2 separate regions of the Homo sapiens genome follow, and region 1 is linked to region 2. Evidence: fine-mapped expression QTL. A gene starts in region 2. The other region holds a variant in brackets. All regions are shown on one strand. Distances are from middle to middle. Region 1 holds the start of LOC105378615 (a long non-coding RNA gene). Region 2 holds the start of PNRC2 (proline rich nuclear receptor coactivator 2).

Evidence for each region. PIP is the estimated chance that this variant, and not a neighbour inherited with it, causes the effect.
Region 1: its variant is the best candidate, but not a certain one, in a credible set for the expression of PNRC2 in whole blood (INTERVAL, PIP 0.81).

Annotation. Positions count from the first base shown.
Region 1 is chr1:23,983,572-23,987,962 of GRCh38, reverse strand. LOC105378615 (a long non-coding RNA gene) reads left to right here and starts at 175. Exons shown (of 2, transcript XR_947070.1): 1 at 175-219; 2 at 431-555. The variant G/A (reference allele first, on the strand shown) is at 2,474.
Region 2 is chr1:23,957,169-23,961,559 of GRCh38, reverse strand. It overlaps PNRC2 (proline rich nuclear receptor coactivator 2), which reads right to left and starts at 1,732. Exons shown (of 3, transcript NM_017761.4): 1 at 1,562-1,732; 2 at 426-631; 3 at 1-120. The coding sequence starts at 102. LOC124903877 (a long non-coding RNA gene) reads left to right here and starts at 3,446. Exons shown (of 4, transcript XR_007065541.1): 1 at 3,446-3,458. RefSeq lists enhancers at 1,466-1,735, 2,636-2,695, 2,874-3,502 and silencers at 1,936-2,045, 2,456-2,555.

The DNA of each region.
Region 1 (4,391 bases), 26 kb before region 2:
TTATTTACACCAGCAACACCACATAACAATAATGACATTAACTTATGACATTAAGACAGCTATGACATCGCTATAATTCTATAATCTTTATAATCAGCTCATTATAATCTCATGGGAGCCCCATTGTATATAGGTGGGGTCCCCAAACCCCAGGCCACAGACCAGTACCAGTCTGCGGCCTGTTAGGAAGTAGGCCACACCACCAGAGGTGATCAGCGGGTGAGCAAGCGAAGCTTCATCTGTATTTACAGCCACCCCCCATCACTTGCATTACCACCTGAGCTCCACCTCCTGTCAGATTGGTGGCAGCATTAGATTCTCATAGGAGCACGAACCCTACTGTGAACTGCGCACGCGAGGGATCTAGGTTGCACGCTCCTTATGAGAATCTAATGCCTGATGATCTGTCACTGTCTCCTATTACCCCCAGATAGGACCGCCTAGTTGCAAGAAAACAAGCTCAGAGCTCCCACCGATTCTACACTATGATGAGCTATATAATTATTTCATTATATAATACAGCTTAATAATAATATAAATAAAGCGCACAATATATGTAATGTACTTGAATCATCCTGAAACCATCCCCCATCCTTGATCCATGGAAAAACTGTCTTCCATGAAACTGGTCCCTGGTAGGGAGGTGGCGGGTCAGCCCCCGCCTGGCCAGCCGCCCCGTCCGGGAGGCAGGTGGGGGTTCAGCCCCCGCCCGGCCAGCCGCCCCTTCCGGGAGGGAGGTGGGGGTTCAGCCCCCACCCGGCCAGCCGCCCCGTCCGGGAGGGAGGTGGGGGTCAGCCCCCACCCGGCCAGCCGCCCCGTCCGAGAGGGAGGTGGGGGGCGCCTCTGCCCGGCCGCCCCTTCTGGGAAGTGAGGAGCCCCTCTGCCCGGCCACCACCCCGTCTGGGAGGTGTACCCAACAGCTCATTGAGAACGGGCCATGATGACGATGGCGGTTTTGTGGAATAGAAAAGGGGGAAAGGTGGGGAAAAGATAGAGAAATCAGATTGTTACTGTGTCTGTGTAGAAAGAAGTAGACATGGGAGACTTCATTTTGTTCTGTACTGGGAGGGGTTCTTCTGCCTTGGGATGCTGTTGATCTGTGACCTTGCCCCCAGCCCTGTGCTCTCTGGGGCATGTGCGGTGTCCACTCAGGGTTAAATGGATTAAGGGCGGTGCAAGATGTGCTTTGTTAAATAGATGCTTGAAGGCAGCATGCTCGTTAAGAGTCATCATCACTCCCTAATCTCAAGTACCCAGGGACACAAACACTGTGGAAGGCCGCAGGGTCCTCTGCCTAGGAAAACCAGAGATCTTTGTTCACTTGTTTATCTGCTGACCTTCCCTCCACTATTGTCCTATGACCCTGCCAAATCCCCCTCTGTGAGAAACACCCAAGAATGATCAATAAAAAAAAAAAAAGAAAAGAAATAGCTAAACAAGCCAATAAAATATAAAGCTAGGATAACTAATCCATTTGAATAAGACAGCATAGAGCATCCAGAAATGACCCAAATACATAAAGTGGCATTTCAAATCAATGGAGAAGGGAGGGTGTCATAGTTCGCGCCTGTCATCCCAACACTTTGAGGCAAAGGTGGGAAAATTGCTTGAGGTCAGGAGTTTGAAACCCGTCTCTACAAAAATTTAAAAAATTAGCTAGGCATGATGGCACATGCCTGCAGTCCTACCTGTTAATACTTGGGAGGCTGAGGTAGGAGAATTACTTGAGCCCAGGAGCTTGAGGGTGTAGTGCACTATGATCGCACCACTGCACTCCAGCCTGGGTGATGGAGTGAGATCCTGACTCTAAAAAATAAAAAGGGGCAATGGTAGGTTATCCAGAATTGTATTGTAGTATAGGGTAGCCCACTGGAAAAAATAAATTCAAATCCCTATCTCACAAGTTTCATTGAAAGAGATTTCACACAAGCAAAGATTTAAATGTAATAAATAAATGAACCTATAAAACTATTACAAAACAAACAAACAAACAAAAAAAAGAAACTGGTCCCTGGTGCCAAAAAGGTTGGAGACTACTGGTATACAGGGCCAATTATTGACCAAAACCTTGTTATGAAGCCCATGATTGTATTTATTCAGTTCTTTCCCATGCCCTTTGTTACATGATACCAATTGTTACATGTTAGCCTAGATAACCAGGCTACAAAGAACAGTAAGCCTTGAGAATTCTATAAAGTCTTAAGGTAAAGGTTCTTACCTTTTCTCAGCCCCTACACGCACTCCTTGGTAAATCAGAGCTCCCTGATCTACTTTTCCAGGGAGATGTCATGTAGCATTTAAGAGTCAGACTCTAGGTCGGGCGTGGTGGCTCACACCTGTAATCCTAGCACTTTGGGAGGCCAAGGTGGGCAGATCGCTTCAAGTCAGGAGTTCGAGACCAGCCGGGCCAACATGGTGAAACTTCGTCTCTATTTAAAGTACAAAAATTAGCTGGGCATGGTGGCAGGCGCCT[G/A]TAATCCCAGCTACTCAAGAGGCTGAGGGAGGAGAATCCAGGAGGCGGAGTTTGCAGGGAACTGAGATCACGCCACTGCACTCCAGTCTGGGTGACAAGAGCAAAACTCCTTCTCAAAATAATAATAATAATCGAAGTTTTAATAGCAATTAGTTCTGAGTGGTAGGATAACAGGTGATTTTTGTTTCCTTTATATTTTTCATCTCCAAAGTTTTAACATGTATAACTAGGAAAAGTGTTATTTTAAGGCATTAAGCCAGAAGTAGTGTCTCACACCTGTAATCTCAACACTTTGGGAGGCCTCGGTGGGAGGACAGCTTGAGCCCAGGAGTTCAAGATGGGCCTGGGTAATGTAGTGAGACTCCATCTCTACAAAAAATTAGAAAAAAAAAATTAGTGGGGCGTGGTGGCTTGCGTCTCAGTCTCAGCTACTTGGGAGGCTGAGGTGGGATGATCTCTTGAGCCTGGGAGGTCAAGGCTGCAATAAGTCATGACTCTGCCACTGCATTCCAGGCTGGGCAACAGAGCGAGACCCTGTCTCAAAAAAATAAAAATTAAAAAAATAATGTGGTGAAAAAATATGTCCATTAGCCATGAATTCTCCCACAGAGCAAAATTAGTCAGAGCAGGGGTTGAAAGGTGAGCCTGCACATAGATATTAATAAATTGATAAATGTGTACATATGTATGTGCCCAAAAGTTTCCAACTCACAAGTAAAGGAATGTTTAAATGAGAACACTGAGTTCTCGCAGTCTGAAGAACTTGGCTTGCTGCCCACTCACTAGAGTGAGGCAGCTTATAGGAAATACCAGGCATGTCTTATCAAACAAATTAAATGAACATGCTTCTAATTGATTGTTTGCTCATGGAGACAGAGACACAACACCAAGCACTGTCTGTGGCAGTTGTCTGAATTAAGCAATTGTACCAATAAAATTAATGTTGTATTGACTCAAGGCTTTGGTTCTGCCTATGGAGTCAGGCTCAGAATTCCACTGACTTAACACACAGTATTTGTCCCTGTGAGTCTCCTTCCAGCAAGCAGAATGGCTCAATGAGTGTGCCATTACCCACAAATCAAGGAAGAACTATTTCAGGATCAAGGAAATTCAGTTATATTGTTTACATTTGGGTTTTATTTGTGCAGTTCTGAGAACAGTACCAAGGAAAGTGGTTTTCTAACATAAATCTCAATAAAACATAGTGTCTTCAAGAAGAGGTGCAGCACCCAACAGATCATTTTCAGAAATTAACATTTGGAGGCCAAGTGCAGGGGCTCACACCTGTAATCCCAGCAATTTGGGAGGCTGACGCAGGATGATTGCTTGAGCCCAGGAGTTCGAGACCAGCCTGAGCAATATAGTAAAACTCGTCTCTACAAAAACCTTACAGAATTAGCCAAGCATGGTGGCACGAACCTGTAGTCCCAGCTACTAGGGAGGCTGAGGTGGGAGGATCATTTGAGCCTGGGAGGTGGAGGTTGCAGTGAGCTGTGATCGCACCACTATACTCCAGACAGAGCAAGACTGTCTCAAAAAAAAAAAAAAAAAAAAACAAGGAAAGAAAGAAAAGAAGAAAGAGGCCGGGCACGGTGGCTCATGCTTGTAATGCCAGCACTTCGGGAGGCTGAGACGTGTGGATCATGAGGTCAGGAGTTTGAGACCAGCCTGGCCAACATGGTGAAACCCCATCTCTACTAAAAATACAAAAACTTAGCCAGGTGAGGTGGCGGGCATCTGTAATCCCAGCTACTTGGGAGGCTGAGGCAGAAGAATCGCTTGAACCCGGGAGGCAGAGGTTGCAGTGAGCCGAGATCCTACCACTGCACTCCAGCCTGGGCGACAGAGCAAGACTCCATCTCTAAAAAAAGGGAAAGAAGGAAAATAAAGAAAGAGAGAGAGAGAACTTATCATTTGG
Region 2 (4,391 bases):
GGAATTCTGTTCCTTGGTCTTCTGTCTGTTAAGCTGTTGTTGGTTCTTACTAACATTTCTAGATTGAGGGGCTGGAATGTTATACCTCTCTCCACCACCCATCTTCAGCTTCTTTGTCACCTACAAGTGAATGGAAACAAATATTGAGTAAAATTCCATTAAGAAAAGTTCAAAATCTTTAAGAAGCTTCTATGGCTCCAACTTATAACTCCAGATATTTTGGACAAGACTCAATAACAGGCTATTCAGCTGCTTTAAACTCAAAAAAGCAAGCCGTTCAGACTTCAATATATGCACAACCTTTATTGTTATACCTTCCCTAAGAAAAATGAGCTTACCCACAAATCTACATAATCTATTTTAAAATAAAAACAATTGGTTTAGGATGGTTCCATCATAAAATGTTTGCCCATTATGATGATTACCTTTCAGTCTGCTTTTCAGATTGCAGGATCTCCACTACCTGTCCTCTTCCTTGCTGCCAAGCCCAAGATAACAAGTGTTGCTTTCTGACAGATCCCTTCCTTTGTCTCAATACAGAAGTTTTCATGGGCCGATCTGCTGAGTTCAGCCTAGGAGCTGAGGCCAACATCTGAGTCTCCTCAGCACACAAGTTTGAGAGAAGTCCTAGCTAGAAAAGTAAAGATTACTTCATTATTTCAAAAACACGTTGAGAAAGTGATCATTTAGATTTACTACGAAAATCGTTGACTGTAAAGAAGGCTACTTCCTGAACTAAAAGGTAGAAAATTTCTCGTAAGATGGCTTTCTTTGACCTTATAACCACGACCATTTAAAAAAACTCTTCACCCTTGAGATCCAGTCACTCCTGGGGAATTTTTGTAAGTGTCTCCAAGTCCCGCAATAAGTTTTATCTTTATCTTTTTCCTGGGAAAGACCTTCAGATTCTCTCGCGTATAAAATCAAGGAAGTGTTAAATGTTGAGTCATATCAAAAAATTGGCTTCAGGCGGATTTTCTAAAGAGACCGTGTTTTTAAACTCCCACCAGAATTTTCCAATCTTTCCACACATGTCACATCCATTTTCAGTCTCTTGGAACATGTAGACATCACGCAGTGTTTCCTTTGGTTATGAACGCTCTCGCCTCCTCCCCGTCTTAAAATAAGTTCTCACAAGCCCTAACAGTCTAAGCCCATCTTAAATATATAAAAATGTCTCCCTAGAGGGAACAGCTTAACTTTCAAGGTTTGGTTTTAATTTGATGTTCCAAGAAAATAAGTTACCAAATAGTTAAGCCCCCTCCTTTCAAAGGGGTAAGAGAGCTTTCCAAACAGATAAACAACCCTAAATAAATTGCCATTTCCGGACTGTGAGTAATTCCCAACTCGAACCCGGAAAACGCCTCCTCCGACGCCACAAGGGCTTGGCTTCCCAGTGGCCCCATCTCTCCGGAGCCGCAGGGGTCGCGGCGCTGCGACCGCCCGTGACCGCCCGCGCCCGCCCGGGTTACCCGGATCTCGCCTCCGCTCGCCTCCTTCCTCCAACAATGGGGAGCGCGGCCACCAACATGGCCGCGCCCTTAGCGCAGCCGCTACTTACTGACTTCAAGCTCGGAACTAACGCGGCAGCGGCTCCCTCTCGACGTCGAAGCCTCCCTCCCTTTCCAGGGAGAGACGAGGCACGGACCGACAAAGCCCACGAACACCGATGAGCGAGCTGCCGGCCACCCCAGCTTCTACAACCCGACCTTCTCCTTCTGCCTCTACCGACAAAATGGAGTCGGCAGCGACTGCAGAAGCAGGGCCGGGAGGCTCCGCGGCCAATCAAAACACGACAGCGCGGGCCTGGCCAATGAGAAGCGGGCCGCCGCCTGTTGCTGGGGCTGGCCGGGGGCGAAGGCGCGGAGGTGGGGCTGCAGAGGGTTTGAAATCTGCCCGGGGAGGAGGAGCATGCCGGGAGTAACTGCTCGGTCCACCGGTGTCTTAGTCCTTTCTCCGGCGGCCTCTCCGCGCCCCTGGCCCGCCGAGGCCCCGGCCGCTAGCTCTCGGCTCTTCCTACCGCTCGGCTCTCGTGCGCGCGGGCTCGCCGCCCTTGGGACTGCCCTGGGGGAAAAGACTGACCGGCGGGGGACGTTTGGTTCTCGAATTAGGGCCACTGAGTCCTGTAGCCTGTATTGACAGATGGAAGATACTCCGGAAAGCCTCTTGCCAGGGCGCAGCCCCCTCCCGCCTCGGGCCTCGGCTTCTGGGTCGCCTCTCTCCCACACCCACAACTCCGCGTCCGAAGCCGGCGCCTCCCCGCGGTTCCCTCCAGTGCCCCCACCCTCCAGCCCCGCAATTACTCAAAAGTTGCCTCCCTGTGAAGGCGGTTCAGACACACGCGGGCAAGTCAGTCACTTCCTGCTTGGTGGCCCCATTGGTCCTTAAGTTCAATTAGAGCCCTTTACGCGCCGTGTTACCGTTTCCTGTGGCTGCAGCTCTCCCCACCCACACACCCTCGAGGGCCACAACCGGTTAGGTTTTGTTTCTCTGAGCACAGCGCCTTCGCGCGTTGTAAGTGCACAGTAAGTTTGCTGAAAGAATGAGGACTGCTCTCCTCCCCTTTCTGCCCCACTTGTAAGTGAAAAAGGGGAAGAAAGAGAATATTGTTCAGTTGATTATGCCAGCCAGATGCAGGTAAGGGGAAAATGGCAATTTCTTTGGAGTAAATGTATAAGTAACCCAATGTGAATCTTTTAAAAGAGCACTAATTTCAATGAGCGTGAATAATTCTGGGCCAAACGGTACAAAATCAGTCTCATTCACAGTTTGTTCGTGTATACACATATATACCCAAGTTTACGTTACAGAATTTATATTTACCAACTTTTTATAAATCTCATGTAATTCGTTATTTTTGAGACGGAGTCTCCTTCTGTCGCCCAGGCTGGAGTGCAGTGGCACAATCTCGGCTCACTGCAACCTCCGCCTCCTGGGCTCAAGCGATTCTCCTGCCTCAGCCTCCTGAGTAGTTGGGATTACAGGCGCCTGCCACCACACCCTCCTAATTTTTGTATTTTTAGTAGAGACAGGATTTCATCATGTTGGCCAGGCTGGTCTCAAACTCCTAACCTCACGTGATCCGCCCGTCTCAGCCACTCAAAGTGCTGGGATTACAGGCGTGAGCCACCACACCCGGCCTGTATTTCGTTTTTTAATCTTCAATTTTTTGCCACCGTTATCCCCCACTTCCCAATCCAACCCAAATTCCTATATTCTAGCCATTGGATCTTAAGAAAAGTTACTGCATCTTACGGGATGCAGTTTGTTAATCTAATTTGATAAAAGAGGTATTTTTGAGCATAGGGACTTTCTGATGCTAATCATATTCAAATAAGAAGTATGTGGTAAACCAACAGGTGTCTTAGTGAAAGTGTAATCTGTTTTCCAAACATTCAAGAAGTTTGCTTAGACGTCTAGCCAGATAATAGCCAGCTGTATTTAATGAATTTTTAATGGTGTCACTTTAAAAAACAAAAAACAAACAAAAAAACACTTCCGTGGCTCCAAATTGTGATACGGAATAAAATCTAAACTCTAAACGTTTAGAAAATTATTCAAAGCCATTGCAGTCTAGAGTTAGTCTTTTCATGGCAGGGCATGGCTCACACCTGTAATCTCAGCAATTTGGGAGGCCGAGGCAGGAGGATCACTTGAGCGCGGGAGTTTGAGACCAGCCTGGGCAACATGGCAAAACCCCATCTCTACAAATAACAATTAGCTGGGCATGGTGGCACACGCCTGTAGTCCCAGCTACCTGAGAGACTAAGGTGGGAGAATCACCCGAGCCCAGGAAGTAGAGGCTGCAGTGAGCTGCGATCACAACACTGCACTCCTGGGTGAGAGTAAGACACTGTCTCAAAAAAAAAAAAAAAAAATTCATCTCTTCAGCCACTCTGAATTTTATCTGCATAAACGCACACATAACATTGGAAATGTATAAACCCACACAGAGTATCCTTACTCTGCCCCCTACCCTGTGCTAAATTTTTTTTTCTTACATCATTTCATTTAATCCTCACAATAATGTTGTGAGGTAGGAGCTGTTTTCATCCGCACTGTACAGATGAAGGCTCAGACGGTTTCGAGTTGAAAGCCAGGTACTAGGATTCAAGAGGCCAGGCTGCAGGTTGCCTGCAGCATCTGTGCTCTCCAGCACCTAAAAGGTTTTTTGCTCAGAGCAGACACTGACTGTTGACTGGGCTGCCGGGGCTGTTCGGGCAACAAGAAGCCTCCATCCTACCATCTGGCAGAACCAGTTTCTTTGCCAGAAGGTCAGAGTCGAGATGCCCTTGGGGAAAGCACTGTTAAAGCTTTTACTGCGTCCCAGACTCCCAGCACCCTCTCAGGCTAGCTCCAGCCTCATCATTCATTAGTATTTACCAAGTGCC